Homo sapiens: one gene and its partners. The protein of the gene in region 3 purifies or fractionates together with the protein of the main gene of each other region. This does not show direct contact. Each region holds a gene or a part of one and is shown on either strand. Other genes may lie near its edges. The genes, in order: APBB1, HSPD1, QTRT1, APBB2 and HPCAL1.

Evidence for each region.
Region 1: the proteins of QTRT1 (region 3) and APBB1 purify together in Homo sapiens (affinity purification with mass spectrometry; 3 studies listed by BioGRID and IntAct, with this or other methods). This does not show direct contact.
Region 2: the proteins of QTRT1 (region 3) and HSPD1 purify together in Homo sapiens (affinity purification with mass spectrometry; 3 studies listed by BioGRID and IntAct, with this or other methods). This does not show direct contact.
Region 4: the proteins of QTRT1 (region 3) and APBB2 purify together in Homo sapiens (affinity purification with mass spectrometry; 3 studies listed by BioGRID and IntAct, with this or other methods). This does not show direct contact.
Region 5: the proteins of QTRT1 (region 3) and HPCAL1 purify together in Homo sapiens (affinity purification with mass spectrometry; one large-scale study listed by BioGRID and IntAct). This does not show direct contact.

What each region holds. Positions count from the first base shown.
Region 1 is NC_000011.10:6,394,901-6,400,873, forward strand, and holds the end of APBB1 (amyloid beta precursor protein binding family B member 1), read right to left. Parts: intron 1,316-5,973; coding exon 1,200-1,315; intron 1,063-1,199; coding exon 886-1,062; intron 802-885; coding exon 634-801; 3' UTR 225-633; downstream 1-224. UniProt on the Homo sapiens protein: Transcription coregulator that can have both coactivator and corepressor functions. Adapter protein that forms a transcriptionally active complex with the gamma-secretase-derived amyloid precursor protein (APP) intracellular domain.
Region 2 is NC_000002.12:197,489,067-197,494,368, reverse strand, and holds part of HSPD1 (60 kDa heat shock protein, mitochondrial), read left to right. Parts: intron 1-118; coding exon 119-212; intron 213-876; coding exon 877-1,045; intron 1,046-4,072; coding exon 4,073-4,172; intron 4,173-5,121; coding exon 5,122-5,302. UniProt on the Homo sapiens protein: Chaperonin implicated in mitochondrial protein import and macromolecular assembly. Together with Hsp10, facilitates the correct folding of imported proteins.
Region 3 is NC_000019.10:10,707,817-10,713,789, reverse strand, and holds the end of QTRT1 (queuine tRNA-ribosyltransferase catalytic subunit 1), read right to left. Parts: intron 1,630-5,973; coding exon 1,491-1,629; intron 1,238-1,490; coding exon 1,162-1,237; intron 1,033-1,161; coding exon 923-1,032; intron 838-922; coding exon 750-837; intron 673-749; coding exon 520-672; 3' UTR 425-519; downstream 1-424.
Region 4 is NC_000004.12:41,010,648-41,016,620, forward strand, and holds part of APBB2 (amyloid beta precursor protein binding family B member 2), read right to left. Parts: intron 3,752-5,973; coding exon 2,936-3,751; intron 1-2,935. UniProt on the Homo sapiens protein: Plays a role in the maintenance of lens transparency, and may also play a role in muscle cell strength. Involved in hippocampal neurite branching and neuromuscular junction formation, as a result plays a role in spatial memory functioning.
Region 5 is NC_000002.12:10,419,988-10,425,960, forward strand, and holds part of HPCAL1 (hippocalcin-like protein 1), read left to right. Parts: coding exon 1-148; intron 149-2,995; coding exon 2,996-3,101; intron 3,102-4,537; coding exon of another isoform or gene 4,538-4,626; exon of another isoform or gene 4,627-5,973. UniProt on the Homo sapiens protein: May be involved in the calcium-dependent regulation of rhodopsin phosphorylation.

The DNA of each region.
Region 1 (5,973 bases), on a different chromosome or scaffold from region 3:
GCCCCAGGCCTGTGCTGCCCAGCCAGGAACCCTGTACTGCTGCTGCGACCTGATGCTGCCAGTCTGTTAAAATAAAGATAAGAGACTTGGACTCCAGACCCCTGTGTGACTGTCCCAATTTCTTCTTTCCAGGCAAGCAGGGCAAGGAGATCTTTGGAGCAAGATCATAACTGAGGCACAGGCTAATGGGTTGATGGTGTGGTACAGGCATAAGAAGGCACACAGCAGTGCAGACAGACTTTATTAGTGATATCAATACAGCAGAGGTGCCCATGGAGCAGGGGGAAGGGACCCATGCCTGGACCAGTCCCTTCCTCCTTCTGCCCCTGCTGGGTCCAGGAGGATGAGGCCTGGCCTGGACCAGTTCCTCCTGTTCCACCTGAAACACATGGGGATGGAGAACCAGGGCTGGCCTTGCTTCCTGCTCCTCTTGTTACCACTCCAGTGTTATCACTTCCTTGAAGGGATTAGATCTCTCCCTCCCCAGCTCCTAGGCAGGGAACCGTAGCTACTGGGGAGGGGCATATTTGGGAGGCCTGAGGCCTAGGAATAGCCTCTAGACCCCTCCCTGACCCACACCCTTTAGTTCCCTGGGGCCCAACACAAGCAGGTGGAGGGAAGGTGGGGGCTTCTTCATGGGGTATGGGCCCCCAGCCGTTTGGGCTTCAGGGAGCCCCACAGCGACTGAACACCCCTGCGGACAGTCCACCCTACACGCCGTGCCACAGACTCAGCAGGGGGTGCTGGGAGGCAGGAGGTGGAGGCCTGGGAACGGGCATCCAGACACTTCTGGTAGCGAAGCTGCGGAGGCAAGCAGGGCAGTCACTCCCCAGCCTACCTCCCATGGGGCCACGCCACCACCACACCACCCTACTAGTAGCTTACCATGCACGCAGCCTGCACAGCCTCTGAGAGGCTGGCAGCATTGGGCTCGCACCAGAACATGTGGCAGCAGAAGGAGGCTGGGCCGGCAGCCATGATGAATGCAAACGTGTGGACATCTCTGCCCACGGCCAGGAAGGAGAGGAAACGCACCCGACACTCTCCCAGCACTGCCTCTGTCTGCATGGAGGGAACTCAGTTAAAAAGGAACACCAACCCCACACTGTGTTCCACATCCATCTTAGCAGCTCTTCCCCTCACCCCCAGTCTCCCCTCTATGGCAAGGCGCAGCCACGACTTCTACCCCAGCTCTTTACCTGCTGGTGCAAGATGGTGAGGGTAGCAGGGGCCACACTGACATGACTTGGGGTCCATTGTTCACGGCTGCTGGAGGACAGGACTGACTCGAGGGCCCCATTAATCACATCTACCCCTAGAACATATGGACACAAGATACCACTGAGGGTAGACAGAGGATACCCCAGCTCTACCCTGGACCTCTAGTTCCACCCAATCAAACCCAGGGCCTTTGCCCCATCCCCACTTTGCCAGCCTACATTTTGGACAACGCTGTCCAAGTATCCCTTCCCTGGGGCTCTCCTCCCCTGGCTTCAGTAACTGGACATTTTCCTACTTTTTAAAATCTTGGATCCTAGGCTCGTTATTTTCACCGGCTCTGCCTATTCCTCCACACTTCTGAACTGACTGACCTCTCAAAGTTCTGATTTCCCCAAATCATGCTCTCTCAGCGCTCATCACACTCAGACATCACATTGCTTCACACCACAATAACTCCCAAATCAGACCCTACAGGCCAGTCCTCTCCCAAGACCCAATTATTTTTTAAGATATCTATCTGAGGAGTGATTACTCTGTATCACATTGTGCTAAGTCATTACAGTGTATTACCTCATTTGTGCCCACACAACAACATCACAATAGATTACTTTATTTCCATTTTACAAATAAGGAAACGGAAGAGATAGGTAATATGCCTTAGGTCACATCGAGGAATGGGGACCTGAGCTCAGGCAGTCTGATTCCAGAGCCTGGGTTCTTAGCCATGCCTTTCTCCTACCTCTTCTCTATATTACTAGTTTTCAGAACTAGAAGGGCTTTCAAGATCTTAGTTCTACTCAAGAATGTCTATAATGTGCTCAAGAGCCAAGGAACCCAAGGTTCCTGACTTTCAGATCAATCAACTTTCCCTTATAACACATGGCCTCCTCCACCTCAAACTGCTGTTAAACATTTCCCCTCATGGATCCCACTTTTGCTTGCACTCAGCAGAGCACCAAGGCAGGAGCACATGTTGTGGCAAAGGCATCAGTTCTAGTCCCCACACTCATACGCTGGCTGTGTGATCTACTGTCTCTGCACAATGCCAGTGCAAAAGGCACATGCCTCTGTGGTCCACTCCCAGGCCCTCTGCCCCTTTTAGTGGCTCTCAGCTCCCACTAGGAGCAGACCACGTGGACTCTTTTGGGCAGAGGACAAATGTCTTCCTTGCATGTCTTCTCCCATCTTGGCCTTGCTCATCTGACTTCTAGCTGGATCAAGGCCAAACTGCTCCCAAAAGCATACAAGTCTTCCAAAAACTGGCCTCACCAGAGCTGTCAAGCTTCATATTTTACTGCTCCCTGAGCTTCAGATGATTTGTGTAGCATTATTATTAACAACTAATCTTGGCAAATGGCCTGTAAAGCAGATGGGGAATACAAAGCAAGAGAAGAGAATGCCCTTGAGAGACACAGACTGCAACTGAGGGAAAAGCCTCTGTCTTGAGTGCCCTTTCCCTGCTGGACTGAGAAACTTCAGACTGTCATCCTTCAGGGCTCCAACTAGGTGCTGTCTAGGAAGCCATGCCTGCTGCAGGGCAGGGAGAGGACAACTCTGAGACAACTCTTACCATAACGTCTTGTAACTGCTGGAAAACTTTTTTCCACACTGGGCCGTGGCCATCTCAAGAACAGAAATGGAATTTAATTCATCCCTCTGTCCCCAATTCTAACACAGGGCTTATCTGCTGAAGAAATTCCAGATGCATGAGCAAGTCACTCTCAAGGCAACAAGGGCAAATGCACCCGAACTGGTAAAACCAAGTGTCACAGAAGTGGATGGGCCAGGTCAGATTGCAGAGTGCTTCAAAAGCCAGGCAGAGGGGTGTGATGTTTATGACATTTAGGCCAGGGCAATTGGAAATCTCAAAGTTCAGGTGTGTGAAAGGGACATCATAGTCAAACTGCTGAATAGATGGGGCTGTGGGAGATGGAGCCTGGCCTCAGAGTCTTGGGAAGTTTGGCAGGGAAGCAGTGAAAGCAGTGGACCAAGGTATGGAAAAAGGCTGTCAGATTTGATAACTCAGGACTAAAACCTACACTGTGACCTTGACCTCCAGCCCCACATGCAATCCCCCTAATCCTGCTGTGCTTTTCTCTTCTTTTTTTTTTGTATCAGTTGTTGCCTTCTAACATACTCCATGGTTTACTCATTTTATTGTCTGTCTCTCCTTGCTAGAATGTCAGCTAAATAAAAGCAGGGATCTTTGTCAGTTTTGTTGATTAATGCATGCCAAGAAGCTAGAATAGTGCCTGACATGTATCAGGCATTCATTACCACTTGTTAAATAAATGAATAATTAATGAATGAATATTGCAGCTTCTGGATGGGCTAATGTTTAAAAACGAGCATAAGATAAAGCAGGAAGTAAGTTTAGAGACCACTTGTCCAAGCGGAGCAGTCAAGGGTCACAGGCAGTTGATCTGGCATAGGGAGGACCAGAGTCAAGTGGTAGATGGAAAGAAGCACATATGGGAATGGGGGTAACAAATGGAAGAGCCAACAAGGGTTTAGAAGTTGAGGACGAGAAGGAGGAAAGCAAAGGCGTAAGGGTCAGCATGCTTTTCTCACCTCCAGCTCCAAGTCTTTGGCAGTGCCATCGAATCCAAATGAAATACCCACTCCACTCTGCAAATCCAAACCTTCTTTCAAAACCTCAGTTCAATCCCCACCTTTTCTAAGAAGGGTCCCCTCTTTCAATGTAAGATTTTGGACGTGAAAGTCAGCACGGTATAAGGGAAAGTGCAGAGAATTAAAGATGACCGGGGTTTGACTCCCAGGTCTAGCTTTCCTGGCCATGTAATCTGAAGCAAGTCTCATTTATTCATTAATTCATTTTTTATTTCATTCATCAAACATTTGTTGAGTTCTTCCTGTGTGTCTTTTGACATGATACCCTACCACTTCTTTTTCAAGTAGCCTCTTTTCTTCTTCCTGCCTCTCTCCAGTTGTCACTATCCTTGGCAGTTTCATCCTCTACACATCCATTGAATGTTGGAGGGCCTCAAGGCTATGACTAGCTTCATTTCCCTTCTCACTTCAGGATGCCCACTTTCCAGGGCCAAGCTACTCTACATCCATGGCTTTGATTACCTCTACAACCCAATAATGCCAAAACTCCTATCTCCAGCCCAGACCTCTCCTCTCAGCTCCAGATCTGTGAATCTAACTGCCAACCTGACTTTGCCTCTCAGATTCCCCAAAGGCATCTCAAACTCAGCATGTCCAAAAGTGAGCTCACAATCTCTACGCTCAAATTGGCCTCTTCAAGCATCTGCCACCTTGAAAGAAATAATCCACTATCCAGAAGGTCCAACAGCCAGGAACTTAGGAGTCATCCTTGTCCCTCACCCACATCGAACCAATCACTGAGGCCTGTTGACTATACCCGTCTAAACAGCTCTTGAATCCACGCACTCTTCTTCAGCTCCATTGTTGCCCAAGATACTCTCATTACTGGCCAGGACTACAGCAAGAGCCTCCTAACTGAGCTGCTCACATCCACCTCCACCCACTTAACAGTCCCCTCCATGAAATAGCCAAAGTGAGCTTTCAAAATTCAAATCTGATTAAGGCAAGTGCACTCTCGGAGACTTCAATAACTCCTTGCTGCCCTTAGGATGAAGAAAAAATCATTAACATAGCCCCTGAGGTCCCTGACCTGGCAGCCTGACCACTGCCCAGCTGTCGGCCTCATCTTGCATTGGCCTTCTTTCAGTACCTTGGAAATGCCAAAGTGCCTCCCACTGTAGACCCTGATCTTCCCCCATCCCACCCCCACCTCCATTCCACTTGACCGCATTCACTTCTACTTATTTTTTGGATTTCAGTTCAAATGTCACTTTCACAGGGAAGTCTTTTACAACCTCAGACTAGATGAAATTCCTTTGTTATATCTTGCTACTTTCTCTCAACGAATAACTCACACATTTATTTGTGTGATTATTTTATTAATTCCTGGTTTTTTTCTACCATAACCTTCTATAACCTCTAGGAAAATGGGACTGTGGCCACTGTTCTCCCTGTGCCTAGTCCAGGGCCTGCCACATGGTAAGCTTCAAAGGTATTTGTTAAGTGAATAAACAAATAAATAGCAGACACTAGGAAAGCACTGAAATATAAGAGTTAACCAGATCAGGCCAGGCACAGTGGCTCACGCCTGTAATCCCGGCACTCTCAGAGGCCGAGGCAGGTGGATCACTTGAGGTCAGGAGTTCAAGACCAGCCCTGGCCAACACAGTGAAACCCCGTCTCCACTAAACATACAAAAATTAACCAGGCGTGGTGGCGGGAGCCTGTAATCCCAGCTATTCAGGAGGCTAAGGCAGGAGAATTGCTTGAACCCAGGAGGCGGAGGTTGCAGTGAGCTAAGATCACGCCACCGCACTCCAGCCTGGCGGACAGAGCGAGACTTGTCTTTAAAAAAAAAAAAAAAAAAATTCTTTGCAACAATGAAGTATGTGACAATTATGCTCACTGTTTCCTTCTCCAGATGCTCCCAGCCCACAGCTGGTGCTGTAACACTAAACCCAGCTACAGGCTGCTGTCTGGTGTCCTCCAGTCATCTAACATCAGCCTCCCAATCCCACCAAAGCTTTTCCATGGGATGAAGGAGTGGGGTCTCCCTTTGTGCCTGGTTCAGCACCACTCACGTGGCTGATGCTCAGCGAAGGCGTGCTGACTGCTGCTATAGGCAGGACAGGAAATAGAGCTAGGACAGAAGTATGGGGAGGTGGGATGCATTTTAAAGGG
Region 2 (5,302 bases), on a different chromosome or scaffold from region 3:
TTCATACTCTACCCTGCATCTCTTATGGCCAGAGGGGTCTGTTTTTATTAATCTGGCCTGTAATTCCATGTTTTGTGTTCAATGAAATCCATATACCTAATTCTTTGACTTTTCATAGGATGGAAAAACACTGAATGATGAATTAGAAATTATTGAAGGCATGAAGTTTGATCGAGGCTATATTTCTCCATACTTTATTAATACATCAAAAGGTAAGAACAAATCAATAACTGAATTATTATTATTTTTATTATTTTAGACAGAGTCTCATTCTCTGTTGCCCCGGCTGGAGTGCAGTGGCATGATGTGGTGGCGCGTTGCTCACTGCAACCTCCGCCTTCCGGGTTCAAGTGATTCTCTTGCCTCAGTCTCCCAAGTAGCTGGGATTACAGTCACACGCCACCATGCCAGGCTGATTTTTGTATTTTTAGTAGAGATGGGGTTTCACCATGTTGGCCAGGCTGGTCTCTTAACTCCTGACCTCAGGTGATCCACCCACCTTGGCCTCCCAAAGTGCTGGGATTATAGGTATGAGGCTCTGTGCCTGGCCAATTTTTGAATTTTTTAATAGAGACAAGGTTTAGCCATGTTGGCCAGGCTGGTTTTGAATTCCTGGCCTCAAGTCATCTGCCTGCTTTGGCCTCCTGAAGTTTTTAAAATATACTTTCTAATATGTGTCAAACTATAGGTATTAGTTGGTGTCATCCTCTAAAAAATAAATGTATATATTCCAAAAGTTAATGCATATGAGAAATGAAGGAGGAAAACCAACTCACTGGTGAATTTTAAAGTGTATTGGAACCTTGGTTTCGCTTTTCATTTAAATGTATTGCAGTCATTTTTTGTATATTTTTGAAATCTTCATTATTTTTACAGGTCAGAAATGTGAATTCCAGGATGCCTATGTTCTGTTGAGTGAAAAGAAAATTTCTAGTATCCAGTCCATTGTACCTGCTCTTGAAATTGCCAATGCTCACCGTAAGCCTTTGGTCATAATCGCTGAAGATGTTGATGGAGAAGCTCTAAGTACACTCGTCTTGAATAGGTAATAAGCAGTGGTATTTGTTGATTTATATTTCTCGGTGAAAGACAGAATTATTTGTATTGCTGTTTGCAGTTTCCATCATGTGTACCTCCACATTTGATCCAGTTGGGTTTGTATCTAGAATTGTAATTGTGTAAATCAGGTGTGCTCTAATGTATCCTTATGGTTGTGTTTTTGAAGGAACCCCAAAGTCTTTACTATTTTGATCAGCTTTCTCATAGAATAGACTAATTTAGCACATGGGTACCTTTCTGTATTTTGCAAGTGTTTACAGTTGTTTTGAAGGCACATGACTGAATCTTGTATTTTTTTTTTTTGAGACAGAGTCTCACTCCCTGGCCCAGGCTGGAGTGCAGTGGCATAATCTTGGCTCACTGCAATCTCCATCTCCTAGGTTCAAACAGTTCTGCCTCAGCCTCCCAAGCAGCTGGGACTACAGGTGCGTGCCACCACACCTGACTAATTTTTGTATTTTTAGTAGAGACAGGGTTTCACCATATTGGCCAGGCTGGTCTCAAACTCCTGACCTCGTGATCCGCCCGCCTCAGCCTCCCAAAGTGCTGGGATTACAGGTGTGAGCCACTGCGCCCGGCCTTGTAATTTTTTTATTTTTTATTTTTATTTTTGGAGACAGAGTCTCTGTCACCCAGGCTGGAGTGCAGTAGTGCAGTGGCTCAATCTCAGCTCAAGCCTCCGGGGTTCAAGTGTCAATCTTGTTTTTTGTTTTGTTTTGTTTTGTTTTTTTAAGGTTTTTCTGGTTAAAAATATGTAAATTTTCAGAATATTATTTTGCATAGAACAGGGAAGTAAACAACTAACTTCCAAATAACTCAGAGCCAGGCATGGTGGCTCACAGCTATAATCCCAGCACTTGGGGAGGCACAGGCGGGTGGATCACCTGAGATCAGGAGTTCCAGACCAGCCTGGCCAACATAGTGAAACCCCGTCTCTACTAAAAATATAAAAATTAGCAGAGCATGGTGGCGTGTGCCTGTAATCCCAGCTACTCAGAGGCTGAGGCAGGAGAATCACTTGAATCTGGGAGGCGGAAGTTGCAGTGATCCGAGATTGTGCTGCTGCACCCCAGCCTGGGCAACAAAGCGAGACTCTGTCTCTAAATAAATAACTCAGATGTAAGTGTATTTCACCATCGAATATTTTTATTTATTTTGAGAGACAGACTCTGTCACCCAGGCTGGCCTGCGGCGGCACGATCATAGCTCACTGCAGCCTTGAACTCTTGGGGTCAAGCAATCCTCCTGCCTCAGCCTCCCAAGTAGCTGGGACTACACACTTGCACAAGCACACTTGGCTGATCTTTTAATTTTTTTGTAGAGACGAGGTCTCAATATGTTGCCTCAATATGTTGCCTAGGCTAGTCTTAAACTGTTGGTGAATCTTAAGTGATTCTCCCACCTCAGCCTCCCAAAGTGCTGGGATTACAGGCATGAGCCACTACCCTTGGCTGTGATCAAGTATTTAGTCTGTTGTTAAATGTTTACTAAATAGTCTGAAGTAGAGAAAATAGCACCCAATCTAAAATAAGGTGAGGTCTAGTCACTTATTTAAATCTACATTTTAAGCTATAGTTTACTATTAGTTTAAACTTTAAGACAGGTAATGTTCATGCTGCAGACAATCTAAGGGCATTATTAAAATGTTTGTTCTTCCTTATCTCAGAATTGAAGTATGTCAGAAGCAAGACTTTTCTTTCCATTTTGTTATAGTAGAAATGCATACATTAACAGGTACGTTTTAGACATTACACGTGCTCATCTGACCCAAAAGCTCTAATGAGCTGCCTTACCCTGGAATGTTTTTCTTAGCTTGGATTTGCTTTTTTGGAGGGATTAAGAAAAGACTTGGCTGGGCGTGGTGACTCATGCCTGTAATCCCAGCAGTTTGGGAAGCCGAGGCGGGTGGATCATGAGGTCAGGAGATGGAGACCATCCTGGCTAATACGGTGAAACCCCGTCTCTACTAAAAATACAAAAAATTAGCTGGGCGTGGTGGCGGGCTGAGGCAGGAGAATGGCGTAAACCCAGGAGGCGGAGGTTGCAGTGAGCCGAGATCTCGCCACTGCACTCCAGCCTGGGCGACAGAGCAAGACTCTGTCTCAAAAAAAAAAAAAAACACACAAAAAAAAGACTTGAGGCCAGAAAAAAACAAGCCTACAGAGTTTTCATTAAGCCATTTTACTGCTAGTTGAAAAGTGGGATATCCAGTTTACATAGCATATAGCTTATTCCTCTGATTTTTATTTGGGTCCTTAATAAAATAGACCAGCTGTCTTGAAGTTTGAACGTTGCTTCTGTTTCACAATCTGCTCTCAAATGGACATTTGATTACACATTCCAAGTATTCATTTACCTGGTAAAAATTTCAGGTGAGCTTAACAATACTGTCAGCTTTTTGTATAACATTTATAAAAGAAGTGAATTCAGAACATTGCTCATTCAAAACTCAGCATTAATATATGGAGATGTTTATTAAATGACCCTCAAATGTAATATTTAGTAATTACTGTTTTTCTACCATTCATAATAGTTATCACTGTATCCTATAACTTACTGTGATGTGATTTTTGCTGCTCGGCCTCCTGAGTAGTGGGGATTACAGGTGCCTGCTACCACATTTGGCTGATTTTTGTTATTTTCAGTAGAGACAGGGTTTCACCATCTTGGCCAGGCTGGTCTCGAACTCCTGACCTCGTGATCCACCTGCCTGGGCCTTGCAAAGTGCCGGGATTACAGGCCTGAGTCACCACGCCCGGCCAGGCCAACAGTTTATTAAGAAGGTAAACGGATATGGACAAGTATAATTAATAGAAAATAGCCTAAACTGTCTCAGATACTTCCTGTCTTAATTTGATCAAAAATTGCTAGGAAGCAAAAAAAAAACAAAAAAACACAAAAACCAAACCAGATTACTTAGGGAGTCCTAAGTAATCTAGTAACAGCTTGAGGGGAATTAAACAGATAGGCATTTTTATTTCATTTAAATCTTACTATCAACTATTCTTAACAGGCTAAAGGTTGGTCTTCAGGTTGTGGCAGTCAAGGCTCCAGGGTTTGGTGACAATAGAAAGAACCAGCTTAAAGATATGGCTATTGCTACTGGTGGTGCAGTAAGTAAAATAAATGTGATAATGGTTTGCTGAATGTTTATACTTGTCTGGAATTTATAGATAGTTTAACATTTCACAATTAGATACTACAACTATCTGTTTCTTTTGGCTCTTTGGAAGGTAGGGGTTGGATTAAATTCCCGTTAATTTGCCACAAGTCTGGCCTAAGAATGAGCTTACTGACTATTCTATATTGACTAAATCTTATTGACTGAATAAGGGGGTTTCCTTTTTTTTGTTTTTTTTGGAGACAGTGTCTTGATCTGTCTTGACTATTCTTGACTTGATCTATATTGACTATTCTTATTGACTTAAATCTGTGGGGTTTCTTTTTTTTTTTGAGACAGGGTGTCTTGATCTGTCACCCAGGCTGGAATGCAGTGGCACGATCTTGGCTTACTGCAACCTCCACCTTCTGGGTTCAAGCAATCCTCCCGTCTCAGCCTCCCAAGTAGCTGGGACTACAGGTGCAGTACCATGCCCAGCTAATTTTTTTACTTTTAGTAATGACGGGTCTCACTGTATTGCCTAGGCTTCTCAAACTTCTGGACTCAAGCAATATGCCTGCCTCCGCCTCCCAAAGTCCTGGGATTACAGGCATGAGCTACCGAGCTCAGTTTTGAAAGGTAGAAGTGTATGCTACAAGGGATGTAGGACTTGAGAGTCAAGGCCTATGGTCTTGTCCTGGCTCTACCAGTAAGTGTGACCTTCGATGTTTTTTTCTCAAGTAAGGCTGGTAATAATTACCACAGTTGTGAGAATTGAGAATTTGGAAATGCAGTGAAAGAGACTATACTCAAGTCTTGTTCTGGACTAACAGTGATCTTAAAATCTCTCATTTCAAAGAAATAAAGTATTTTGATGATTCTCTTGCATGGTGTATTAATAAACTTGGTATAATGGCAGAAACTGTAACCTACAACAGGTTTACGTTTAACTCTTTTTGTAGGTGTTTGGAGAAGAGGGATTGACCCTGAATCTTGAAGACGTTCAGCCTCATGACTTAGGAAAAGTTGGAGAGGTCATTGTGACCAAAGACGATGCCATGCTCTTAAAAGGAAAAGGTGACAAGGCTCAAATTGAAAAACGTATTCAAGAAATCATTGAGCAGTTAGATGTCACAACTAGTG
Region 3 (5,973 bases):
CGAGACTCAGTCTCGGAAAAAAAAAAAAAAGAAAGAAAAAAATAGGAGATTAAGCCTCATATTTATAAAAGTCAGACTAGGAGTGTATGCCTTAAAGCCAAGATACCATTTCTTTGATGGTGATGACCTTGGGCAAGTTCCCTCCCTTCCCTGGGCCTGCTTCCTCAGCTGTAAAAAAGGAGAGGCCAACAGTACCTCCCTCCAAGGTGGCTGGGGGGCCTGGGCCCCAGGAAGCAGGTGGCAGCTCCCGCTCTAGGGGCACGCCCTACATGCTGGGCACTGGCAGGTGGTTTCCAGCTATCCGCTGCTGCCACAGTGACGTGTTATGATTGGTGAGAAGGGGAGATATTCCACTGCAATGACGCTCAGACTGGGAGGGGGACCCAGACAGGCCACTTCCTCAAGAAGACACAGACACACTCTGTAAGTTACAATAAAAAAAACCTTTCAAAAAGGAATCCTTCAGTATCTTCCAGCCCCTCCCTCCCTTCCTTCCTCCCTCCCTCTCCCAATGCCAGGTCAGCCCAGTGTGATTCCCACAGAGGCCAGAGCGTCAGTGGCCCAGGTGGGACAGAGGGTGGGATCCCCGTACATGGCGCCCATGAAGTCCCGCACGAAGTCCGGGAAGCGCTTCTCCACGATGCTGGTGCGGACGGCGCTCATGAGCTGCAGCTGCGGGGAGGGGAGGTCAGCGTGGGGCATACGCACCTAGGACACCCCCGCCCACCTTGCCCCGGGCACTGGCTCACCTGGTAGGCGATGTTGTGGACCGTGAGGTGGTGCAGCGCGGCCGTGTTGTCACTGTGCAGCAGTGCGTGCAGGAAGGCGCGGCTGTGCCTGTAGAGCGGCAGGGGACAGCTCAGCACGGCCAGGCCCTGTCCCCTCCATGCCCTGCCCCAGCTCCCAGTGCCATCCTGCCTACTTTTGGCACGTGGGGCAGGTGCACTCCGGGTCTATGGGGCCGAAGTCCTTCTCAAACACCTTCTTCCTCAACTGCAGGTTCCCAGTGGGCACCAGGGCAGAGCCAAAGCGCTGTGGGAGAGGAAGGGCAGGGAAAGGGGCGTCACCCAGGGCTTCATTCTCCCCACCCCCCACCCCTAACCTTGCCTCCCTAGTCCCCCACCCGTCTCCCGCCCTGACCTCCTTCTGCCAGAGCCTCACCGCTGTCCGTGTGGGGAAGACGCAGTCGAACATGTCACATCCAAGAGCCACGCAGACTACCAGATCAGTGGCATAGCTGGGGTTGCAGCCATGACGGGAGGGGGCAGAGAACCTCAGGGGCTTCCCAGGGCCCCTCCCAACCCTCACACTGCCCCAGACTGGGCCATATTCCCTCAGAATGGCCCCCAAGGGACAGCCATGTCTTCCTAGTCTCCTCAGATCAGACCTGTGTCCGTTTCCCCCAAATGCCACCTCCCCAAGCAGGGTAGGGGGTCCCCAGGAATCCACTTCCCACAGGTAGGGCTCTGGCTTCCCTATCCACAACATACCCAACCCCCATCAGATATCGGGGCTTGTCCTTCGGCAGCCGAGAGGTGCTCAGCGCCACCATCCGCCAGAACTGCGACTTGCTCTCACCCCCGCTCAGGCCCCCGATGGCGAAGCCAGGCACGTCTCGCTTGGTCATCTCTGAGGGTACAGGGTAAGGTGAGGGCCACAGAAGAGGAAATGCGCCTGGTCTTCAATCCCAGAACACACCCTGCCCAGACTTCCAGAGTCGCTCAGGGAGAGAGTCAGAGAAACAGACAGAGACAGACAGACAGAGCCAGAGACGGAGAGGGAGACGGAGAGGGAGACAGAGGAGAGGGTCCATCAGTTTGTCTGTCTGTCTAGGGGCTGGGACTACTGCTGATCTCAGCTAACATTTATTGAGTGCCTGCTGTATGCAAGACCTTTTCCTTCAGTACTCAGAAGAGGCACAGCCCACAGTCCCTTAGCTGAAACTGTTGGAACCAGATGTGTTTCAGAATTCAGAGTTTTCCAGATGTGAGAACAGTAAACATCCCACATGCTGAGTAACAGCTGTCATGTTAGGCGCAGTGGCTCACGCCTGTCATCCCAGCACTGTGGGAGGCCGAGGCAAGCAGATCACTTGAAGTCTGGTGTTGAAGAACAATCTGGCCAACATGGTGAAACCCTGTCTCTACTAAAAATATGAAAAGTAGCCAGGCGTGGTGGTGCACGCCTTTGGTCCCAGCTACACAGGAGGCTGAGGCAGGAGAATCGCTTGAACCTGGGAGGCAGAGGTTGTAGTGAGCCAAGATCACACCACTGCACTCCAGCCTGGGTGACAAAGTGAGACTCCATCTCAAAAAAAAGGGCCGGGCGCGGTGACTCATGCCTTCAATCCCAGCACTTTGGGAGGCCAAGGCAGGCAGATTACGAGGTCAGGAGTTCGAAAGCAGGCTAACCAACGTGGTTAAATCCTGTCTCTACTAAAAAATACAAAAATTAGCCAGGTGTGGTGATGGGCACCCGCAGTCCCAGCTACACAGGAGGCTGAGGCAGAAGAATCGCTTGAACCCGGGAGGTGGAGGTTGCAGTGAGCCGAGATCAGATGACTGCACTCCAGCCTGGGCGACAGAGCGAGACTCCGTCTCACAAAACAAAACGAAACAACAACAACAACAAAACACCCAATAGCCTGTCATCAAACACTGTAATATTTGTACAACAAAATATGTTAAGACTTGGTGGAGGAAAGGGGAGTGAGAGCATTAGGACAAATACATAACGCATGCGGGGCTTAAAACCTAGATGACGGGCTGATGTGTGCAGAAACCACCATGGCACATTCATAGCTGTGTAACAAACTTGCACGTTCTGCACATGTATCCCAGAACTTAATTTTTTTTTTTTTTTTTTTGAGATGGAGTTTTGCTCTTGTCATCCAGGCTGGAGTGCAATGGCACCATCTTGGCTCACTGCAACCCTCGCCTCCCGGGTTCAAGTGATTCTCCTGCCTCAGCCCCCCGAGTAGCTGGGACTACAGTCGCCCACCACCATGCCCGGCTAATTTTTTGTATTTTTAATAGAGACAGGGTTCCGCCATGTTGGGCAGGCTGGTCTTGAACTCCTGACCTCAGGTAATCCGCCCACTGCAGCCTCCCAAAGTGCCAGGATTACAGGCATGAGCCACCACGCCCGGCCAAAGTAAAATTTAAAAAATAAAAATAGGCTGGGCACATGGCTCACGCCTGTAATCCCAGCACTTTGGGAGGCCAAGGCAGGTGGATCACGAGGTCAGGAGTTCGAGACCAGCCTGGCCAACATGGTGAAACCCCATCCCTACTAAAAATACAAAAATTGGCCAGGCGTGGTGGCTGGTGCCTGTAATCCCAGCTACTCGGGAGGCTGAAGCAGGAGAATCGCTTGAAACCAGAAGGCAGAGGTTGCAGTGAGCCGAGATGGTGCCACTGCACTCCAGCCTGGACAACAAGAGCAAAACTCCATCTCAAAAAAATAAAAAATAAATAAAAATAAAAATATGTGAATACTTGTAACAACTGGGATAAAAAATGAGAGATCTAAGTTAGCCATGAAATGAGTTGCAAATTTTTCAGGGCATTCTAAGTTTTTTCTCTTTTCTTTTCTTCTTTTTTTTTGAGACAGGGTCTCACTGTGTTACCCAGACTGCAGTACAGTGATGTCATCATAGCTCACTGCAGCCACCAACCCCTGGGCTCAAGCGATCCTCCCACCTCAGCCTCCCAAGTATCTAGGATCACAGGCACACACTCCCATGCTTGCGTGCTAATTTTCTTTTTTTCTTTTTTTTTGAGACAGATTCTTGCTCTGTCGCCCAGGCTGGAGTGCAGTGGTGTGATCTCAGCTCACTGTAACCTCCACCTCCCGGGTTCAAATGATTCTCCTGCCTCAGCCTCCCGAGTAGCTAAGATTACAGGTGCCCACCACCATGCCTGGCTAATTTTTTTTTTTTTGAGATGGAGTCTCACTTTGTTGCCCAGGCTGGAGTGCAGTGGCACAATCTCGGCTCACTGCAAGCTCTGTCTCCCAGGTTCACGCCATTCTCCTGCCTCGGCCTCCCGAGTAGCTGAGACTACAGGCGCCCGCCACCACGCCCAGCTAATTTTTTCTATTTTTTAGTAGAGATGGGGTTTCACCGTGTTAGCCAGGTTGGTCTCGATCTCCCGACCTCAATGATTTGCCCGCCTCAGCCTCCCAAAGTGCTGGGATTACAGGCGCGAGCCACCACGCCCGGCCTAATTTTTGTATTTTTAGTAGAAACGGGGTTTTACCATGTTGGCCAGGCTGGTCTCGAACTCCTGACCACGTGATCTGCCCGCCTTGGCCTCACAAAGTACTGGGATTACAGGCGTGAGCCAGCGTGCCTGGCCCAATTCTCTTTTTTTAGAGATGGGATCTCACTATGTCACCCAGACTGGTCTCAAGCAATCCTCTTGCCTTGGCCTCCTAAAGTGCTGGGATTCAGGTGTGAGCTATGGTACCCGGCCAATGTTCTGGATTTTAGACTTTCGCTCTGAGGACCTGGATGACACAGAAGGGGCTGCAGAATTGTGCTATTGTTCAACTTGCCTGAAACAAGAGGAAATTGAGGCTTGCAGAGCTTAAACCACTAGTCCAAGGCTACATATGCCAAAGGCTGGATTCAAACCTGGGTCTGGCCTCCAAGTCCAGGCTTATCTTGTGCCCCAGCTGCCCAGTTCAACCCGAAGAGGCCATGCCATCAAGAACGCAGGTGTTGGCCAGGTGCAGTGGCTCAAGCCTGTAATCCCAGCACTCTGGAGGCCAAGGTGGGGGTGGATCACGAGGTCAGGAGTTCAAGACCAGCCTAGCCAACATGGTGAAACCCTGTCCCTACTAAAAATACAAAAATTAGCCAGGCATGGTGGTGCATGCCTGTAATCTCAGCTACTCAGGAGGCTGAGGCAGGAGAATCACTTGAAACCGGAAGGTGGAGGTTGCAGTGACCTGAGATCACGCCACTGCACTCCAGCCTGGGCAACAAGAGCGAAACTCCGTCTCAAAAAAAAAAAAAAAGAAAAAAAAAAAAAGGAATGCAGGCGTTGTCTGGGGCCAGGTTTTGAAGGTAATGTGAGCATCCTCCAACTGGACACAGGGTGTTTACATGCAGATTCCTAGGCCTTCCCTAGCTCCAACTCTGGTCGGATCATGGGAAGGGGAGCTGCATTTTACCAGGACTTTCAGTAGTTTGTGCTGGGGCAGGTAAGCCTCAGAGCACTTTGAGAAGCACCCCATGGGGCGGTGCTTGTCAAACTGCAGGTGGTTGAGAAATGACTTTGATGACGCACGGGTTGTTGTCGTTGTTTTTAAATGAAAGAGAAAAGAAAACACCAGAAAGCATTGCATGTAAAAGGTAATGCATGGCTGGACACACCGGCGTGCACCTATATTCCAAGCACTTTGGAAAGCTGAAGCAGGACTGCTTGATCCCAGGAGTTTGAGGCTGCAGTGAGCTTTGACCTAGCCACTGCACTCCAGGAGGAGCAACAGAGTAAGACCGTGTCTCAAAAATAAATAAAGAGGCCAGGTACGGTGGCTCACGCCTGTAATCCCAGCACTTTGGGAGGCCGAGGCAGGCAGATCACAAGGTCAGGAGTTTGAAACCAGCCTGGCCAAAATGGTGAAACCCTGTCTCTACTAAAAATACAAAAATTAGCCGGGCCTGGTGGCGGGTGCCTGTAGTCCCAGCTACTCAGGAGGCTGAGGCAGGAGAATAGATTGAACCCGGGAGGCGGAGGTTGCAGGGAGGCAGAGGTTGCAGTGAGCCGAGATCGCGCCACAGCACTCCAGCCTGGGCGACAGTGCAAGACTCCACCCTCCAAAAAAAAAAAAAGTAAAATAAATAAATACATAAATAGGCTGGGCGCGGTGGCTCATGACTATAATCCCAGCACTTTGGGAGGCCAAGGGGGGTGGATCACCTGAGACTCCGTCTCAAAAAAAAAAACAAAAACAAACAAACAAAAA
Region 4 (5,973 bases), on a different chromosome or scaffold from region 3:
ATACCTAAATACTCATCAGCAGGGAACTTGCTAAATAAATCGTGGAACTTGTATATAGTGGAATAGTATACATAATACTTAAAAAGACTGACGTAGAAAAATGGACTGATCTACAAAATACGTTCTTACGTGAAAAAAAGCAAAGCATTCATAAAACAATCTAATTGGAGTAACTTTTTCCTGGTTTTAACTATTTATTGTGGCAAATTTTAAACATACAAAATTAGAGAATAGAATAATGAACCCGCACGTACCCATAATGCAGCTTTAACAATCAGCAGCTTATGGGCAATTTTGTTTCTTTTTTTATCCTTCTAATCCCAATTATTTTGGAGAAAATACCATACACAATATTGTTTCCATCAGTATGTGTTATACTGTATTATATATGTTATACTATGACATAGATTAGTATTTTATATTAGTATATATCTCTAAAACATAGGGATTCTAAAAACATCATCACAACATTTGGGTAAATTTTAAAATTGATTATTATTGTTTTTTTTTTTAATTTTAATTTAATTTAATTTTATTTTTAAATTTCTTTTGAGATGGAGTCTCGCTCTGTTGCCCAGGCTGGAGTGCAGTGGCACAATCTCGGTTCACTGCAACCTCTGTCTCCCAGGTTCAAGCAATTCTTCTGCCTCAGCCTCCCGAGTAGCTGGGACTACAGGCACGCACCACCACACCAAGCTAATTTTTGTACTTTTAGTAGAGACAGGGTTTCACGATATTGGTCAGGCTGGCCTTGAACTCCTGACCTGGTGATCCACTGCGCCTGGCCTAATTTTTATTTTTTGAGATGGAGTCTCGCCTGTCACCCAGGCTAGAGTGCAGTGGCGGGATCTTGGCTCACTGCAACTTCCGCCTCATAGGTTCAAGCAATTCTTGTGCCTCAGCCTCCCAGGTAGCTGGGACTACAGCCACCCGCCACCATGCCTGGCTAATTTTTAATGTTTTAGTAGAGAAGGGGTTTCACCATGTTGCCCAGGCTGGTCTCAAATTCCTGAGCTCAGGCCATCTCTCCACCTTGGCCTTCCAAAGTGCTGGGATTACAGGCGTGAGCCATCATGCCGGTCTTAAAATTTATTATTAATATGCGGATCTATGACTCAAACATTTTCTGAGAGGAAATAAAAACATAAGGTAATGGTCATCACTGGGAAAGGGGGCTGGGGTGAAGGGAAGAGGCAGCTTAATTATTCATTTAAAAATACATTTATGTTTTTTGAAACAGAGTCTCGCTCGATCACCCAGGCTACAGGGCAATGGCATAATCATGGTTAACTGCAGCCTCGAACTCCTGGTGTCAAGTGATCCTCCTGCCTCAGCCTCCTGAGTAGCTGGAACTACAGGCACATGCCACCGTCCACCATGCCCAACTAATTTTTTTGGAGGAGGAGAGATGGGGTCTTACTGGTCTTGAACTTGTGGGCTCAGGTGATCCTCTTGCCTCAGCCTCCCAAAGTGCTGGGATTACAGGCATGAGCCACTGTGCCTGAACAAAACTTTAGGTTAGTTTAAAACTTAACTACAACAGAACCGGCTATACCAGGAAGAGCAGCAGAAAGGGTGCCATGACCAGAGGGAGACAGCAAGGTGTCAGTAAACGCCAAACACAGGAAGTAGAGCTTGGCTGAAAGATGTGCAAGGAGTCTTTCATGTATTAATAGATTCAAACTCCAGCAGGTGACAATGTCTATCAGCTTCAGGATATGAATTCTCTAAATGGGTAAAAAGGATAGAGAGCTGTGAACTCAGGGACATTACTGAACATAATTATGATTCCAATAATGTGCAGGGCCAGACAGTTATGAGATGAAATGGCCTCATCTCAACCTCCCTACTGCCACATTCCACAGTAGTATGCATCATTGAAAGTACTGGGATTTTTAAAGGGCACTTCAAAAACGCTACTTTTTTTTTCTTCTTAAACAAGTTAATGTCTTAACTCCTCTTTTCCTTATCTTTAGTCCTTGTAATTTATCTACCTTATCGATTGTAAAAATGTGATTTCCTTCCCTGGTGGTTCTATCTATTTTCTTTGTTATATCTATATTAACACAGCCCTGGGACCCACTAGGGGAACTGCTGGACTACTTTTAAAAAATTAGCCTTTCTGAGTGCTTGTTTACGCTGAATTCAGATACAATAAGGTTCTCCACATTTTTCAATCTTAGAATCAGTATAGTGGGAGCTATAAGAAAATGATATTTAAAGTAGCTGACTTTTAGGATCCTGTTCATTTCTGTCACCATTTTAACACCTCCGACAAATCCAAAATATTACAAATATAGACAAAAGTCCAGAAAGACTGGTCTCAATTAGACTAGTTAAAAGTCTAAACTTCTGAATATATTTTTCAAGAAATACGATTTTCCCACTTTTAAATATTACTTAAGGCTAATAAAACACTCCTCAGTAAATGTCAAAAAGAGAAATGCCTTTAATGAACAGATGGCTAATGTTTTAACTTTTTATGCGCTTCACCATAAATAAGTTATTTTGAGGACTTTAAAATAGTTCTCTTAATTGGGTTATATCCTTCCCCCAACAACTTTGTTTCTTTTATTATTTTGCTTACCAAAACCCAGTATTTCTAGATAGCATATAGAAATGATCTACCTATGCACTGGAAGTGTAATTTCTAAATATATGATATTTTACTGTACTTAACACCAAGGATCTGTTTATTTTACAAAAATGCTTCCCAGAACAAACAACTTTATGCACGATCCAAAATGAAACTGACCTAAAATATGGTTGAGGAATGCAGTAATATTTTGCAAATAAATTGCCCAATTTTACCGCAAGAGGCTCACGTTCCTCTCTGCATAATGGACATTTTTGGTCAGTCTAGAGATTTACTCCAATAGTTGAAAAGATAAAAAAAAAAAAGTGCCAGCTGAGGCTACGCCTTCCCCAGGGGTACCTGTTTCATCCGGGGAGCTGGGTGAGGCACTGTCTTGGGACAACGTTGTCCAGCTGGACTCCTCATCGCTCGGTGCCAGGTTCTGGATCCGGTGCAGTGCACAGTCGGTTTTGGCCCCTGTTTTCGGATGATCCTTCTTGGTTTCTGGGCTGGATGACACTGTGGCTACTTGGCCGTCTTCAGGGCTGGACTGGGGTCTGTTTGGTTTCTGCAGCAGCAAATCGCCATTCCCAATGATGGTGGAGGCCTGGCCCTGGACTGGCTGGGATTTCTCTTCCGCAGTCCCATGGTGATTGCCTCGGTTCTGCTCTAGTTCTCTGGCTGAGGTTTCCAGATCTGCATAGTAATTTAGGAAGCTCTTAGTTCTCCTGGGCTGGGAGGGTAAAATCTCACAGCTCGAGGAATCCTGTGGGTGGGGCTCTTTACCCTCTAACTTCTCAGAAGTTATGTTGATGACTGCAGTGGGGCTCAGGTTTTTGTTGGGGTCCTGCTGCCCTTGCTCTGCAGCCTTACGGAGCTGGTTCTCCCCATTTTTCACCAGCTTGATGTTGGCAGAGCCATTTCCCAGCAGGGGCTGTGCAGCTGGATCCGAGAGGCCCATGGCCGCCTGGATGTTAGTTAGTGCATATTTTTTCCTGCATTTGGGAGGTGTGCTGTTCTTGGTTTCTGTGTGTTTTATTTCAGCGTTCAACAGTTCATTGTGGGAGGATCGGAGGTTAAGGGTGTTTGGTGGTGTGGCTGGGCTGTTCCGATTTGTGACGTCTGTAGTTCCGCTGCTGGCCATAAACACTGCCAAGGTGTCAACACCTGAGTCAGCTGGGGAAAAAAAAAGTCATTAGACACCTGCCATGATTAAACTACTTAGTATACAGTGTGAGTAAATATTTTTATATAGAAAACTAAAAGAAGAAATGCTTCCACTGCACATACATTCTCATAGAATGGACCCATTTTCCTCTTTATTTCACCATTTGTTCCTATATTAAACAGGAGCAAATAAAGGGCTTAACGTGGATAACCAAAAGCCAATTTATAGAAAAGCTAAGAAGTCTGAGGACCTAAATTTTACTTAAAATAAAAAAGCATTTCTCTTTGAATTCACATAAAAGCATTTTCTTCTGGTGGCTGGTCTTCATTTTTTACAAGCTTGAAAAATCATCCCCTTTCCAAATATTCCCACTACATTTTTATTCTTTGGTTCCTTCAGGCAACAACAAAAAATTGCTCAAGATTCCTCTGGGGCTTCAGCTTTCTTAATTAACCTGAAAGGTCATTGTTCAATGATGCTCCATACATCCAAGGTAATTTTTCTCAACCACGTTTAGAAACTGTGTTCTGAATGCCTGGAAAACTAACCCTCCATTAGAGTTTGCTAATGTCTTGGTGAACATTTTTGACCTGGGCTTACTGTTTGTACTAAACTGAAATTTTGAAGAAATGGCTTAATTTCTGAAGAACACGTACACACGCACACAAAACTATTACTGTAGCATTGAGCCCTTGGCTACAGACAACATGTTAGAGCTCCCAGAGGAGTCTGAATATATTCCACTGAATTAAAATACAGACTCAGCTGTTTGCAGTCATCACATGCCTCTGCAGAACTCCTAGGAAACTATCTGGCAACCGCATTTATCTCAAATATTGTTTGCGCCGTTAGTGATTTATTCTATATGTCTCTCGCTGGGAAGAAAGAAAGGTTTCTTAGACTAGAAGGGAATAAAATTCATCAGCAAGAATTCCTAAGGTTTCAGATTTCTCAATCTATGAGGAGTGACTTCTTTCTTATCTGATCCTTTTGCCCTCCACAGAGACTTTGGTGATCTCTACCTCAGCAGCAGATGAACCAAAGCACAGCTCCTGAAATTCCTGAAATTATATTCTGACAATTCCCTCTTCCTCCCCCAGGCAAAACAGGGATCTTTGCAGGAGAGAAGGGCAATAATTTCCTTGTTTGGGAGCTTAGAGGTATCTCTCCATCACCAAATACTTAGGTTGGGCAATTTTAGAAAAAAGTTGCTCATTCTAGAGTCCCTATGCTTCCAGGAAGCAAGGCAACATCAATCCTCCACTCTAGGCCATGGCCATTTTTATAACAGTATGACCATGTGGCCCATAAGAGAGTCAAGGGCTGTAACCCCAAGGGTTAGGATCTTGGGCCCCATTCTTTAAAGTTATTATTTATCGGGATTCCTTCTCACCTAGCACCTCACCTTAGCTCTTAGGCCTCATTTTACAGAAACAGAGAATGTAGTGTGGTTTTTCCTTTTTCAAAATTTCCTTTTCCTCCACCCAGTCCAATGGAAGGTTTCTGCCTTTTAAACAATACTCTTGACAATTAAATTAAAAAAAAACAATTTTTATTACCATTTGGCTACAACTATTATACCATTTTATGGGAAACATGTTTCAATTTATAATTTAATTTCACTCAAGAGTGGCATTTCATATGAGAAGGGCCTACCTGAAACCTACATGAAGTTTTCCCTGAGACACATATCCAGAGCATAGATACATGAGAGAAAGTTATTTTTAGACTCTTGGGTATTTAGAGTGAGATTATGAGAAAGTGCAAATCTGCTGTTCCTAAAAGGCATGGCAAAACATTTATATTAGGCTGCTTTATGATGCTAGGTACTATTATACATTCTAGCAATGTTATTAGGGAGATATTTTTATTTGCTTTGTTTATAATCATACATATTTTCAGAAAGAATACCATCAGAATTTCTAGGTGATTTTTAATATATAAATAACTTTTATATCCTCAATATGACAGATTAAGACTTCTAGCCACAGCCGGGTGCGGTGGCTCACGCCTGTAATCCCAGCACTTTGGGAGGCTGAGGCGGGCAGATCACCTGAGGTCGGGAGTTTGAGACCAGCCTGACCAACATGGAGAAACCCTGTCTCTACTAAAAATACAAAATTAGCCAGGCATGGTGGCGCATGCCGGTACTCAGGAGGCTGAGGCAGGAGAATCGCTTGAACTCGGGAGGTAGAGGTTGCAGTGAGACGAGATCGCCCCATTGCACTCC
Region 5 (5,973 bases), on a different chromosome or scaffold from region 3:
CGGCACCATCGACTTCCGGGAGTTCATCATTGCGCTGAGCGTGACCTCGCGGGGCAAGCTGGAGCAGAAGCTCAAGTGGGCCTTCAGCATGTACGACCTGGACGGCAACGGCTACATCAGCCGCAGCGAGATGCTGGAGATCGTGCAGGTACCGGCGCCCGAGGCCCCGGGTCTCACCGCGGGCCCAGGTCCCCTCCCAGCTCCCAGCCCCCAGCCCAGGGCTTTTTTTTTTTTTTTTTTTTTTAAGACAGGAATCTTGCTCTAGTGACTGGAGTGCAGTGGCACTATCTCAGCTCACTGCAACCTCTGCCTCCTGGGCTCAGGTGATTTTTCCGCTTCAGCCTCTTGAGCACCTCCATGCCCTGTTAATTTTTTTGGTATTTTTGATGGTAGAGAGAGGGTTTTGCCACATTATCCAGGCTGGTCTTGAACTCCTAGGCTCAAGCGATCTGCCCGCCTCAGCCTCCCAGAGTGCTAGAATGACAGGTGTGAGCCACCGTGCCTGGCCTCCCTGTGTTCTTTATGTTCACTCGACATTGGGTCTTTCTTGGCCAGGTTGCTACCTGGTGCACTTTGGAAAGTGAGCAGTTGTCACCTGATTGGGCAGACCCTTGCAAAGGGCAATGGTAAAAGCCAATGTTTATTGATCACTTGCTATACATCAGGGCCGGGTGGAGCACTTTGATCCGTTTTCATCTTCATAACCCAACAACGTGGGTCATTCTCTGCATTTTACAAAGTCTGAGACTCAAATAGATGAATTTCTAAAAATTATATTTTATATATATTTGGAGATGGAGTCTCACTTTGTCGCCCAGGCTGGAGTGCAGTGGCATGATCTCGGCTCACTGCAACCTCCACCTCCTGGGTTCAAGAGATTCTCCTGTCTCAGCCTCCCATGTAGCTGGGATTACAGGTATGTGCCACCGCAGCCAGCTAATTTTTGTATTTTTAGTAGAGACGAGGTTTCACCATGTTGGCCAGGCTAGTCTTAAACTCCTCACCTCAGTTGATCTGCCTTCAGCCTCCCAAAGTGCTAGGATTACAGGCATGGGCCACCGTGCCTGGCCAAGAATTGTATGATTGCTGGGCTCCTTGGCACTTGCAAGAGGTACCTGCCAAGACCTGGGGAAAGCCCTGGATTTGAGAACTCAACAGATAGCTTGTGATGTCCCCAGGAATGCGCAGTCATCAAGTAAAACTGAAGCATTAACGATCACGAGAATCAGCTCAGCACGGGAAAGACGTCACTTTAGGAGGCATCTCTTCACCTTCATGCCTATCAACAGCTCTAGCAGAAAGGCCATGTTTCAGAAGGAAACCAAGTTTTGTTCACTTGGCCAGGTGCCTAGGTATGCGAGAGAGAGTAGAGAGCAGAGCTGCCCCTCCCTGGCATTCCCCTGAGTGCCTCCCTGAGCCCAGGAGCATCCAATTCTAGAACTCATGGCCAGGCCTGTAATCCCAACACTTTGGGTGGCCGAGGCTGGAGGATCGCGTGAGCCCGGGAGTTTGAGACCAGCCTGGGCAATATAGTGAGACTCCATCTCTATAAAAAATTAAAAGAGTAGCAGGGCATAGTGGCATGCACCTGTAGTCCCAGCTACTTGGGAGGCTGAGATGGGAGGATTGCTTGAGCCCAGGAGTTCAAGGTGACAGTGAGCTGTGATTGCACTGCTGCATTCCAGCCTGGGTGACAGAGTGAGACCCTGCCTCCAAAAAGACCAAAAGCAAAATAAGAAAAAAATGGAACTCTTCAGAAGGGGTGGTCCCATGGTAGGGAACTTCAGGGGTGGGCCTCCAGTAGCGGGTATCAAATCCGTGAACTTCTGCAGCAGCAGTGGCCCGCCTCAGGAATGAGCGACCCATTTCCCACGTAGATGGTTTTCACACTGTCAGAGTAAATTAACATGGGCTCGGGGAACTCTGGTACTGTCGTCACTTTCTGGCTCTTAGCTTCATGCAGTGGCGGAAGTAAGAATTCTATTCCCCAGGAATCACCCGTCCTGTCCTGTGTGTTAACCCTTACCCTTTGCAAATAGGTGTGCCTGTCACTGGCCGTGCAGAGGCTTGGTCAGAACATCAAGGCACTGGTAGAACTGTTCCAAGCAGTGAGGAGCAGCCACTTCTGTCCAAACGGGACAGCCCCCAAACCAAGTCCCCAAACCCTGAAAGCCTTCCCCCGACGCCATCGATGGCTCCCTGGCCGGCTGGGTGGTGTTTCTCATGGGACACTTGGTTGCTACCTCTTTCTCACAATGAGAAAATGGTCTGTTGTCAGGAATGAGAATATCAAGCCACCTTCACGTGGAGTGCTCAGAAAATCCCACAGCAGTGCCACCACTCCCCACGCATGTCACTCTGCTCAGTGGCCACTCACCAGTCCCATCACCGTCTCCTCTGTACACCCACCAGCAGCACAGAGTCACATGCCCCAGGCTGGGCCACTCAGGCAGAGACACGCAGAGAGACCAGTGGCTAGACTGAGCCCTCGGCTGACAGTGCCCTAAACAGGCCATGGAGACCCCAGTGCTGCTGCTTCCTGTCCTGTCGGGGCTGGTGATGGGGCTTGCCCTGTGAGTTTCAGGGACTCAGTCTCTTTTAAACTGAGGGGTAACAGCCATGGAGTAAAATGCACACAGCTCAGCAGGCAGTGTGGGGAATTTCACACATCTGTGACCACCACTCTCCCTCAGCATTCCCAGCCCCCGACAGGGACACTTAGGCACCTTCCTGGCACTACCCACCCCCAGGCAGAGATACCAGCACCCTCACCACCCTCCCAGTAGAACCCTTCTGCCAGCTCTGCTCTTGAACTTCACATAGACACCCGTGAGGTTCACTAGGGAACATTCTCCCCACTGGGGAAGGGTCCCGAAGGCCACCGGGAGCCCCTGACCTCTCCGAGCCTTGTTGTGGGCTGGGCGGAAGCCCACCCTTGCTGCACCCGCCCAAGCCCCCGGGCCTCTGAGCACAGTGTCATTGCCCCCATCCGCAGGCCATCTACAAGATGGTGTCGTCTGTGATGAAGATGCCGGAGGATGAGTCCACCCCGGAGAAGCGCACAGACAAGATCTTCAGGCAGATGGACACCAACAATGACGGTAGTGCGGGGTGGGGGCGGGGCTGCATGTGTACGCCACGGTAGGGGCAAAACCATGTGGTTTGGGGCACCCCCTCCCCTCTGCAGCTTCTTGGTCTCCTGAGGGCCACCCCCGCCCGCCACCTGCCTGGCGCCTGCCATGCCCAGGGAAGAGCGGGATGCAGTCAGGGACACCCGTGCTGTATCCTGGCTCCTCTGTGCAGCTTTGTGATGCTGGGCATGTTGTGGCCTCTCTGAGCCACTGTCTCCCCACTTATAGAATCGGGCATACCCATATTCCCGTGGGTACAATGTTTAGGGGCAGGGAGGCAAGCATGCTGGTGGCCCTGAACCTGGAGGGGTTGAGATCAAAGGATCCCAGATGTTGGGGTCCTGGGGTGCTGGCCATGCCTCTCTTGCTGCCATCCTGAGAGAAGAAGCTGCCCAGATGGCCCCAGTGTCCAAGGGGAACTGTCAGGATGTACGCTGCCACCTTGTCCACCTACAGCAGCTCTGTGGAGACTCAGCCCCACTGCAGAAGTGCAAGTCTCACGATGGTGGGTGGCAGCAGTGGTGACAGGGCTGTGCCTCGAGTGCCCTCCTCTGCATTGGCTGTGAGGTGAGGGCGGCTGTGCGGCCCTCCCATTCTGCTCTTCTTGCCGGCTTTGTCAAGAGCAGCCACAGCACCAGGTTTGCTTTGCTTTTGAGCAATAAAGAAACACGACCTTAAGAAGAGAAAATACAGGCTGGGCGCAGTGGCTCACGCCTGTAATCCCAGCACTTTGGGAGGCCGAGGTGGGCAGATCACGAGGTCAGGAGATCGAGACCATCCTGGCTAACACGGTGAAACCCCGTCTCTGCTAAAAATACAAAAAAATTAGCCAGGCGTGGTGGCGGGCGCCTGTAGTCCCAGCTACTCGGGAGGCTGAGGCAGGAGAATGGTGTGAACCCGGGAGGCAGAGCTTGCAGTGAGCCGAGATCGCACCACTGCACTCCAGCCTGGGCGATAGAGTGAGACTCCATCTCAAAAAAATAAAGAGGAAATACTCCCTGGGTTGTGCTGGGGATTAAACGATAAGCTAATGCCCAAGAAGCTGCTCTGCGAAGTCTGGAGTGCAGCCCTCGGGTGAGTTAAGCATGGCCCCAGCGGGAGACGGGATGTGGGGGAGCTGTAAGCAGCAAAGAGCATTCCAGGCAGCCAGGTCACAGTTTCAAAACACACACACACAGAAAACAAGGCTGCCTGGTGCCTGGCGTTGCCTTTGGGCTGATGGGAAATGTGTGTTCCACCCTCCAGCCTAGCAGGGCACCTGCTGCCGCTCTCCTGAGGCTGTCCGCTCCTCGTGGGGATGGTGAATCCGGTCCCATGGGGTTGTGAGGTTTCAGCGAGATGATGCCTTAAAGCTTTTAGCAGGGCTTGCACTCCACAAATAATGGCTGTTGTTCCCAACTTCACAGTGTCCCTGGGGAAGCCACCCATGGTCACTCGCTGCCCGAATCTGCCTCCTGGCTTGGCCCTGCCCACCTCTTCAGAGGGCATCTTCTAGGTTGGTTGGGAATTTGGATGGCATGGTCGTTGCTAATGTGCCTGCTGGGATGGAGCACTTCCTCCTGTGAGCCCAGGGGACCCGCCTGTCCCTGGAGCTTGGGGCAAGGAGGGAAGAGTGATACCAGGAAGGTGGGGCTGCAGCCAGGGGCCAGAGTCAGTTCAGGGAGTGGTCCTCGGCCCTCAAAGCTCCTCCGGGGACTGCTCAGGAGTGATGGTGCCCTGGAGTTTGCCCCAACTTCCCTGGCCACCCTGGAAGGTGCCTGGCTGCTCCAGGCCTCTAGGCTGGGCTGATGGGTTTCTCCAGGACACAAGTATCATTAAAGCCACCCTCTCCTCAGCTTGTCAGGCCGCACATGTGGGACAGGCTGTGCTCAGCAACCCCCTCGCCTGCCCTGCCCTCCATCAGGAGGAGCCAGTGGAACCTTCGGAAGCTCCCAGCATCTCAGCAGCCCTCAGAGTCGTCCTGGGGCAGCTCTGGTTCTCCTGACTGGAGGTCCATCTGGGCTGGCCTGCTCTCTCTCGGCCTGAGACAGGAGGGCCTGGGGTCAGGAACTGGAAGTGGGGAGGCTGGGGCCGTGGACTCTGAGGCCCCACACCTAGCCAAGGAGATGACCACACAGCTGGCTGCCCTGAGTGGTCAGAGGTGGAGGGTGGGGAGCCACTCTCTCCATTGGCAGAGGTTCCTGGGGACTGTCTGCTGAGGGCCTGGCTGTCCCTCCCTCTCCCTACCCACCCCTTAGCCCGGGCATTGTTTGGGCTCTCTTGGGGCCAGCAGGCTGCCCAGGCCCCAGAGGCATCAAGTTCGTGCCCTGGAAGAAGCCAGCCTGCCCAAGCCTGGGCCAGAGTCCCATGAGGACAGGTGTCCCTGCCTGCCAGTGGGCTGGAGGGGCTGAATTCCCAGCAGGGCCCTACTGTGCAGGGGCATCCTCCGTCCTGGTGCTGGTCTGAGTCCTCAAATGCATCCTCCCAGGTGCCTTTGAGATGGGTGTTCCCATTATCCCACCTTCGAGACGAAGATCCTGAGACCTGGAAACGTTGGTGGCTTGCCATGCGCCAGAGCCGAGAGCCCCTCCTGCATGCCTTCCCCTGTGCTGGGCCTGGCTGCATGCGTCTGTGTTGCCTGCACAGACATTTTGCAGGGTGCCCTAGTGATTCCAGCTGACAGCACAGAGCCTCAAACAGACACATGGAGGGGCTGCCCCAGGACCAGGCCGCCAGGACGCAGCCAACCTCAAACCTCATCCTTCCCCACCAGCTGGAGCCAGAGGGACCGCCTCCTGCCCTTGAGGCCATGTCTGAACGGGCAGAATCCTTACAGCCTATCCTGCTTGTGGACTAGCAGAGC